2 separate regions of the Homo sapiens genome follow, and region 1 is linked to region 2. Evidence: fine-mapped expression QTL. A gene starts in region 2. The other region holds a variant in brackets. All regions are shown on one strand. Distances are from middle to middle. Region 1 has its middle 21 kb from the start of HTT. Region 2 holds the start of SLC75A1 (solute carrier family 75 member 1).

The links. PIP is the estimated chance that this variant, and not a neighbour inherited with it, causes the effect.
Region 1: its variant is fine-mapped to the expression of SLC75A1 in whole blood (TOPMed, PIP above 0.99).

What each region holds. Positions count from the first base shown.
Region 1 is chr4:3,052,001-3,056,210 of GRCh38, forward strand. It overlaps HTT-AS. Among named protein-coding and RNA genes, the nearest start is that of HTT, 21 kb to the right of the region's middle. The variant C/A (reference allele first, on the strand shown) is at 1,754.
Region 2 is chr4:2,932,891-2,937,302 of GRCh38, forward strand. SLC75A1 (solute carrier family 75 member 1) reads right to left here and starts at 1,935. Exons shown (of 13, transcript NM_001146069.2): 1 at 1,879-1,935; 2 at 863-1,054; 3 at 677-773; 4 at 216-319. The coding sequence starts at 1,033. It overlaps NOP14-AS1 (NOP14 antisense RNA 1), which reads left to right and starts at 2,656. Exons shown (of 4, transcript NR_015453.2): 1 at 2,656-4,412. RefSeq lists enhancers at 176-405, 426-555, 648-1,515, 2,773-3,972, 3,775-4,014 and silencers at 1,356-1,575, 1,805-2,114, 2,275-2,384.

The sequences.
Region 1 (4,210 bases), 120 kb after region 2:
GGGTTCATGTCATAGTTAGCTCTACAATCTATCTTGAGTAGTTACGAGGCTTTGCCAGCTGAAAATTAACTACTCTAGACTCTTTCTGGGAAGGGCAATGGAGACTGCCCAGTGCTATAGTTCAGTGGTGATCTGGGTTTGATTCCTGGCTTAGGGAATGAGTACTTTCTAATTGATATTTGGGTAACCTTTGCCATTTTTTGATTTTCTCCCCCTCCACAAACTGTCTTGAATTGCCTTTCTCAGAGCACCTGGGAGGTTACTTTCAATAGTTTAAAGGCAGGAATATTGGCTGTTTGGCCTGATGAAAGTTGGGTAATAAGCAATTTAAAAGAACTTTTATTAAAGAGTGCAATGGTTAAAAGTCAGCTTAATTAAAAGTAGATATTCTGGCTCTAACAGCCTGGGACTCCTTGGGAAAACAGGAGGTGCCAGAGACCCCGTTTTGGGAAAAAACTCTGTTTTACTCATGAAACCCCAGAAATTGGAAGTAGATAGATTCCTTTCAAAATCTAAGGCTCTGTTCTGTTTTGCATTGGATTATCTACTGTTTTTTACTTGGGGGTATCAGAAATTACTTCACATAGAGACTTGGTGTGTAATAACTAGGCAGGAAATATACTTTAGGGATGTCTAATGGCAGTTATGGGGCTGACTCCCTCTTTTTTGGGGGGGATCCAGGATCTGGTATAAAAACGAGACCTCAGGCTGGGCATGGTGGCTCACGCCTGTAATCCTAGCACTTTGAGAGGCCGAGGTGGGTGGATTGCCTGAGCTCAGGAGTTCGAGACCAGCCTGGGCAACATGGTGAAACCCCACCTCTACTAAAATAAAAATAAAAAAAAATTAGCCGGGCATGGCGGCATGCGCCTATAGTCCCAGCTATTTGGGAGGCTGAGGCAGAAGAATCGCTTTAACCCAGGAGGCGGAGGTTGCAGTGAACTGAGATGGTGCCACTGCACTCCAGCCTGGTGACAGAGCAAGACTCCGTCTCAAAAAAAAAAAAGAGACCCTTAATTTTTGGAGATCCGTTTTGCCTTCCAGCTGTGCCTGCTTATTATATTAGGCCCTAGAAACTGCATGCTTTCCTGGTCCTGTTCTTCCAAGGACTCCATCCTAAAGCCAGTAATCCAATTTAGAAACTTAGAAAGTGGTAAATGAAAAATCTTACAACTATTGGATCTTCTTCTGTCTGTCTGTGTAGTTATATATGTGTTGTGTGTTTAATGTTTATATAAAAGAGCTCTAATTGCCAGGCACATTGGCTCACGCCTATAATCCCAACACTTTGGGAGGCTGAGGTGGGTGGATCGCCTGAGGTCAGGAGTTCGAGACCAGCCTGGCCAACCAGGCGAAACCCCGTCTCCACTAAAAATACAAAAATTAGCCAGGTGTGGTGGCGCATGCTGGTAATCCCAGCTACTCAGGAGGCTGAGGCAGGAGAATCACTTGAACTCAGGAGGTGGAGGTTGCCCTGAGCCAAGATTGTGCCACTGCACCCAAGTCTGGATGACAGAGTGAGACTCTGTCTCAAAATAAAAATAAAAATAAAAATAAATAAAAGAGCTCTAATTAATTGGCTTTAAGAAAAATGAGTGCTTAAATCAAATATTTTGAAAGAAAAATAAAAACTCTAATGCCTTTTAGTGCATGTAACTTCAGTAATCTTTGGGAAATAAAAAGTTTTAAAGGTTACTGGTGAAAATAAAGACATTTGGCCTAAATTAGGCAGGTTAGATATTAGGTTTGCTAA[C/A]TTCTTTTTTTTTTTTTTTTTTGAGATGGAGTTTCACTCTTGTTGCCCAGGCTGGAGTCCAATGGCGTGATCTAGGCTCACTACAACGTCTGCCTCTCGGGGTTCAAGCAATTCTCCTGCCTCAGCCTCCCGAGTAGCTTGGATTATAGGCATATGCCACCATGCCCAGCTAATTTTTGTATTTTTAGTAGAGATGAGGTTTCACCATGTTGGCCAGGCTGGTCTTGAACTCCTGACCTCATGATCCCCCCGCCTCCGCCTCCCAAAGTGCTGGGATTACAGGTGTGAGCCACTGCACCCAGCCAGGTTTGCTAAATTTTTTAAGGTCATAAACTGCTTTGACTTTTCTAAATTGTTCAAATTATTTTGGAGCATTAGATTCTAGATAAGGCCTGCGGACATGTGGAATTAGCCATGCCCCCAGCTAGGCAAAGAAGATTACAAAGAAAATAAATTTTATATAAGAAAGGATCTCGTATGGTAAATTCTTGCCCTAAAGTAAAATAACTGGTTGTTTAAAAAGAGGGGTGTTTAAAAAGAGGAGTGTTTAGGACAAGTGAGAAAGTCCAACCATGCCATAGATGGCCTGTGTAAGTTGTTAAAGGATTTGTGAAATTCATGCACCAAAAGTAAAAGATGCTAAGAGTTACCATTATAACATGTAATTGAAACTACTAAAAAAATAGTTTTACATGCAAGGTGTGTGAGGAGAGTGAAATGTGTTTTTGGTAAAAGATTATAAGAAGGCATGGGAATGTAAATTTTTGCCTAGTTTAGAGGGTTAAAGGGTTTTTAAGTTAGATAAGATAAAGCTAAAAGTTTGAGCAAATTGTAGGTTTGTAAAAATTAATCTTGTAAAAGAAATTCTGTGTGTGAACATATTGACTAAATTTAAAGGAGTATTATTCATTTTTTCCAGAAATTGAACATTGAAGTAAAAGCACAACAGGGTTTTCTTTTCTTTCTATTTTTTTTTTTTGAGATGGAGTCTCGCTCTGTCACCCAGGCTGGAGTGCAGTGGTGCACTCTTGGCTCACTGCAACCTCTGCCCCCTGGGTTTAAGCGATTCTCCTGCCTCAGCCTCTGGAGTAGCTGTGATTATAGGCACTTGCCAGCACGCCTGGCTAATGTTTGTATTTTTAGTAGAGACGGGGTTTCACCATATTGGCCAGGCTGGTCTTGAACTCCTGACCTCGTGATCTGCCCGCCTCCACCTCCCAAAGTGCTAGGATTACAGGCATGAGTCACCACGCCTGGCCAACAGGGTTTTCTTAAAGCACTGTTCTGCTCTTTCACAAAAATTGTAAGGGCTTGGCCAGGTGTGGTGGCTCACACCTGTAATCCCATCACTTTGGGAGGCTGAGGCAGGTAGATCACGAGGTCAGGAGATCGAGACCATCCGGGCGTGGTGGCGGGCGCCTGTAGTCCCAGCTACTCAGGAGGCTGAGGCAGTAGAATGGCATGAACCCAGGAGGCAGAGCTTGCAGTGAGCTGTGATGGCGCCACTGCACTCCAGCCTGGGCAACACAGCGAGACTCCGTCTAAAAAAAAAAAAAGTCTCAAACTAGCCCTGGGTTGGGCCCTGTCATCTTTAACCCATTTTTAACCCAGAGGGACTTTACTGAGGGGAGGGCCTCTAACCCAATCCCATGCTTTACTTAGGTAAAATGTACCCCATTACTTATTCAAAGTCAGCCAATTTGTGCTGCAGCCTATCTCCTTTGGATTGCGATAGTAACTAAGCTAAAAGGTTAGCAGATTTGATTTTTGGGAGCCTTCATTTTTAAATGCATGTCAGTGCACTGTTGTTCATTCAGAATGTTCCACTGTAGTCATCTTTAGTAAGATTTCACCATTTCTGTAAGACTTCACCACTTTCCATGCCTAACGTGTAAGCCAGAAGGAACCCAGTTTTCCGGAAATTAAGGAACCCATTTTTACCTGAATATTGGCTTTACGCTCAGCTTCCCTTGATTAATTTAGCCAATGATTTTTTCCTACCTAAGTGTGCAAGAAAAATGAAACAAAGGGGTAGAACACAAACATCCCCACGAATTTTCAAAAGCCAAATTTTACACCCCCTGCAATATTACCATTTTCTACCAGTTTCTTTCAGACCCAGTCAGATGTAAGAGGCCTCTAACTGGATCCAGGCCGGTTAATTACCGTATCAAATCTATTCCTGGACCCATCCATTTTCTTTGGCGACTTCCAAACCCAGTTTGGATCAGAAATTTGCACAAAGAAAACTCAGAGAGCTCGAAACACAAACTGTGGATCTCCAAAATCCAAGAGAGGACTTATCCATGATCCCCAGCTGCTCTGAGAAATCAATGGACACAAGTGTGTCCAGCAGGTACCTTACTTGTTCACTCAGTGCCCCAGGGGTCATTAGAAGCTTTACTTTGGATCCCACTTCTGACACCATGTTAAAAGAAAAACTTCAGCCGAATTAAA
Region 2 (4,412 bases):
CTCAGTGCCTTCCTAGGGGCCAGGAGCAGCTCCTTGAAAGCCTGGCTCTGGAACAGGAGCCACTGGTCCCCCGAGAACCCCCTCCAGGATGCGATGAGGGCCAACCAGTGGCCATGAGGGGCCCACAGCCACCTCCCTCTCCCCACCTAACCCCATGGGGCTACTGGCTGGGTGGGAGGAGGCTTCCCCATGGGCACCCAGGCCCAGGAACATACCAGGCACAGCAGCATCACCGGGCGCCTCCCCAAGCAGTCAGAGGTGGCCCCAGTGAGTGGCGCACACAGAAACTGCAGGACAGAGAATGCCGAGCCAATGAGACCTGAGAGACAGATGTCACCATCATGGGGCTGCCTGGCACCATGAGCTGTGGTCTTGGGGCCCTCAAGGCCAATGTCCAGCCCCGTCCTGAGGGTCCAGTCATGCTGGGCCCTACACTCACAGGCCATGGCCCTTGAGCCGAGGGGGCCCCAATGGAGAGATGAGGAAGGATCTGAACGTGACACGCGGAGGCAAGGGATCATGCCCAGAAGCCAGGACATGTGGGCAAGGGCACCAGACATGCCAGCCCAGGGAGTGGGAAGGCAAGGACCGAGAATTGGGGAGGGGCCTGGGCTGGACCACGTCCACCAAACATAGGACCGTAGAGAGCCCGCCAAGGGCACAGAGCCAGCCATACCTCCGAACAGGACACTGTTGTACCTCTTCTCCACTGGCATCCCGATGGCGGTGGCAAACCAGTCCACCCCGCCCTGCCAGGAGCCATAGAGGGGGTCCTAGGGGATGAGGAATCACGATAAGGGCTGGGGAGGTCTGATGGGCCTGGGGGGCAGGGGGCACTGTGGGCCGCAGGGCAAGGACTCACGTGGGCACGGCCGTGGCTCTCCAACAGCCCGGGCAGCAGGGGCAGCAGCAGCGTGAAGGCCAGGAGGTCCAGCAGGAGGCCGAGAAAGACAACGGTGACCACGCGGCGCTCCGGCGGCTGCTGGTGGATGGGTGGGCGCGGGGTGCAGCCTCCACCCCCTCCCCATCCCATGGTGGGCTGCTCTGACCTGGCCTGGGTGGGGTGCGGCGGGTCGGGTTAGCGGGGAAGCCGAGTCCTCCGGGGCCTGGCATACCCCCACACCCGACAGCCGGCGAGCACCCTAAAGGGGCTGATGGCAGGGGCTCTGGCCTACGGACGCAGGGGCCGTTCTGGCCTGCGCGATGCCCCCGCCCCGAACCCAGGCAGCAGGAAACGCAGGCTTCGGGGATTGCACAAAAAATAGCCGCAAAGGCAACGGTCCTGAGAGACCAGGGTGAGCACATCGCGGACCTGGCCCCACCCCACCCCACGGCCGCGCCTCCCACGCCCTCGTAACAGCGAGAGAAAACTTGAAGCCGCGGGGAACCCGGATCCCGATCCCGATCCCGATCCCGATCCCAACCCCAACCCCAGCCCCGGCCCGCGCCCCGCGATTCCGGCCCCTGGCCCGGACTCGGTCTCCCTGGCGGGGGCCATGGGGTGCACACCGGACGCAGGAGCACCCCCAACCCCGCGCGCCTCCCACTCCGCCATCCCGCGTGCGTCCCGGTCCCGCCCCCACCCCGCGCGCCCCCGGTCCCGCCCCCCACCCTGCGCGTCCCCGGTCCCGTCCCCCACCCTGCGCGCCCTCTAACCCCCACGCCGCGCGCCTCCCACCGCCCCCACCCCGCGCGCCCCTGGTCCAGCCCCACACCCCGCGCGCCCCCTACTCCCCTACCCTGCGCACCTCTCACCCGCCCCACCCCCGCGTACCCCGGGTCCCGTCTCCTCCCCCACCCCGCGCGTCCCCTGTCCCACCCCCAACCCGAGCGCCCCCTACGCCCCCCACCCCGGGCGCCCCCGGTCCCGCCCCGCACCTGCCGCGGCTGCGCGCTCGGGACGGACGGTCGCACAGACGCGGAACAGGGCACCAGGCACGCCGCCAGGGGCGGGACGGCCACGCCCGGCCACGCCACGCCCCGGAAGTGACGTACATCTCTGCACGTTCTCTTCCGGCCGGAGTCAGTGGCGGGGTTCTCGCCGGTCCTGCGGGTCGCTGCTTGGCTGTGGGTTAGCAGCACCCTGAGCGGAGCGGAAGAGCTGCCCGCCGCCGCGTAACCCCGAGGCCGAGACTCCTGGCCTGGCCTCCTTGGGCCCACGACGCCTGCCCCGCGGAGCGGACCCATGGGCCTGAGGTTTGTGTGCGGGGCCTCAGGCGAGCGCTGGCGCAGCCTGTCCCCCATCGTCTGCGCCCTGCGGGCCTGGCCCTCCCCGTGGAAGGACCGCGGGCTTCGGGGCCCCACGCTGGGGGGCTGACTCCTGCCACACACACAGCGGTGGCCGCGGGCCTGGGGCGGCAGCACAGCCATTCTGCTCGGGCTGCGTGAGCTGACCCCGCTCTCTGTGCACCTACTTTTGCTGCGTTTGGTGCTGAGCCTGAAGTCCCAGGACAGGCGGCTGAGGGGGAAAGATGGTGTGAATTGGGTGGGCAGAGACAACTGAAAGCCACAGGACCCGGTTGGCACCTTTTTGGCCGCCTGCGCCTTTGCCTGCAGCCCCGCTCCCTGGGTCACCCGAAGGAGGAGCTGGCGCTCTTTCCGGGCGCAGAAGCACCCGACCCACGCTGGAGGAAACGGTCCCTCTGGGCAGGAGAAGCTTTGGGCCTGGCTGGAGCACACTCACGGAACCACGCCAACGCCTGGCCTGTAGCCAGCTCCCACCTCCCCTCCCACCTTCTAAAATGCTTGCGGATCTCACGTGGCCGACCCTAACCAGATACACATGGGGAAAGGAATCAGGTGGCACACATACCGCCTTTACTCCATAGAGAACTTCCAATTGTGGGTAAGAACAAAGCCCCACCTCTTCCTAATAGATGCAGTTTTCCACCTGCAGCCAAAAAGACAACCTGTTATTAGCTTTTTTCCCAGAGGACAGGCATCTCTATGAAACTGCCATTGCAAAATTTGCCGACAGTGAGATAACCAGCTCCATTTTGCTTCTAACCTCCATGCCCTCCTTGTTTACTGCTGCACGCAGGTTGAACTGTGGGAGGAACTTAGTTTAAAACAAAGATGATAACAGCCCTTTCCCAAAGGAAACCTTTCCTGGGGATTAGCCTGCTTTTGTGGGACCAACAGATTAGCCACAAGATTAGAAACTACGGTTGAAGAGTCACGCAGCGGGAGGCTACAGGATTCTGACCCTCCCCAAACTGCTCCTGGCGATAACATCACCATCGTAAAGCCTAAGATCAGCACTTGGTGGGTCACCTGGCACCACCCAGGCTCATCTGATGTTGTGGCACCCAGGAACTGACTCAGTGCGAAAACAGCTTCGACTCCCTGTGATTTCATCTCTGACCTGACCAATGGGTACTTCTGACTCACTGGCTGCCCCCCACCCACCAGCTTATCTTTAAAAACTCCAAACCCCAGATGCTCAGGGAGACCGAGTAATAATAAAACTCCAGTCTCCCACACAGCTAGCTCTGCGTGAATTACCTTTTCTCTGTTGCAAATGCCCTTTCTTGATAAATTGGCTGTCTAGGTAACAGGGAAGGTGAACCCACTGGGCAGTTACACTTTTATCCACCCTTCCAGCTGGATCACGCGCCCTCTTCAATGACATGACACGCAGCTAGAGTGTATGAGCTTGCTGCCGGCACCTTCCGTCCTGGATCGCATAGCAAGGCCTCAATGGACAGCCAGGTGCCTGGTCCGGTCCCACTTTTTTTTCTGTCCTGTTCTCGTTTCCTCTTTGCTTGGCCAAAGAGGGTTGGGCCAGGGTCCTGAGTGCAAAGGCTTGGCTTGGTGAATTAAAGTGGCAGTAGCCGTGTGGCAGAGAAAATTTGTAGATGGGTGAAATCCTGGGCCTACACAGTGACAAAGTGTATATAGACAGCCAGCCTAGTTGGTGGATGTGACAACCCCAGACTCTTCTAGATTTGTGGATCCGTGCACCTGCCAGACCTGTCTCTGAGCCATCTGGGGAGGCTGGGTAAGATTTCCCCCGTCAGGGCCTGAGCCTCATCTCCAAGCTGCTGGCTTCAGCCCAGCTGCCACCAGCGCTGTCTCTGTCTTGCGCTTTCCAGAGAGAGACTGACTCATTTTGAGCTCCAGGCCTACCAGGCAGCCCAACCGCGGCAGTAACTGCCTCTCACACTGAGGATGGCTCATGCTCTGGTCCAGCCATGGCTTGAACACCTCCCAACAAGAACAAAGCCAGACTCATTCTCCCTAGCATCTTCTTCCTTGCTCAAAGATCCCACACCCCGTTAGAAGCTGGAACTGGGTCCTTGTCACCTTCCTCACCTCCCCAGTCGTAGTCTGGTTAATCCTTACATCTCACCACGGTCACCGTGGCTAGATGTGACCTCCGCGATGCTTCAGGCACGTACCAGGGCAGCCTG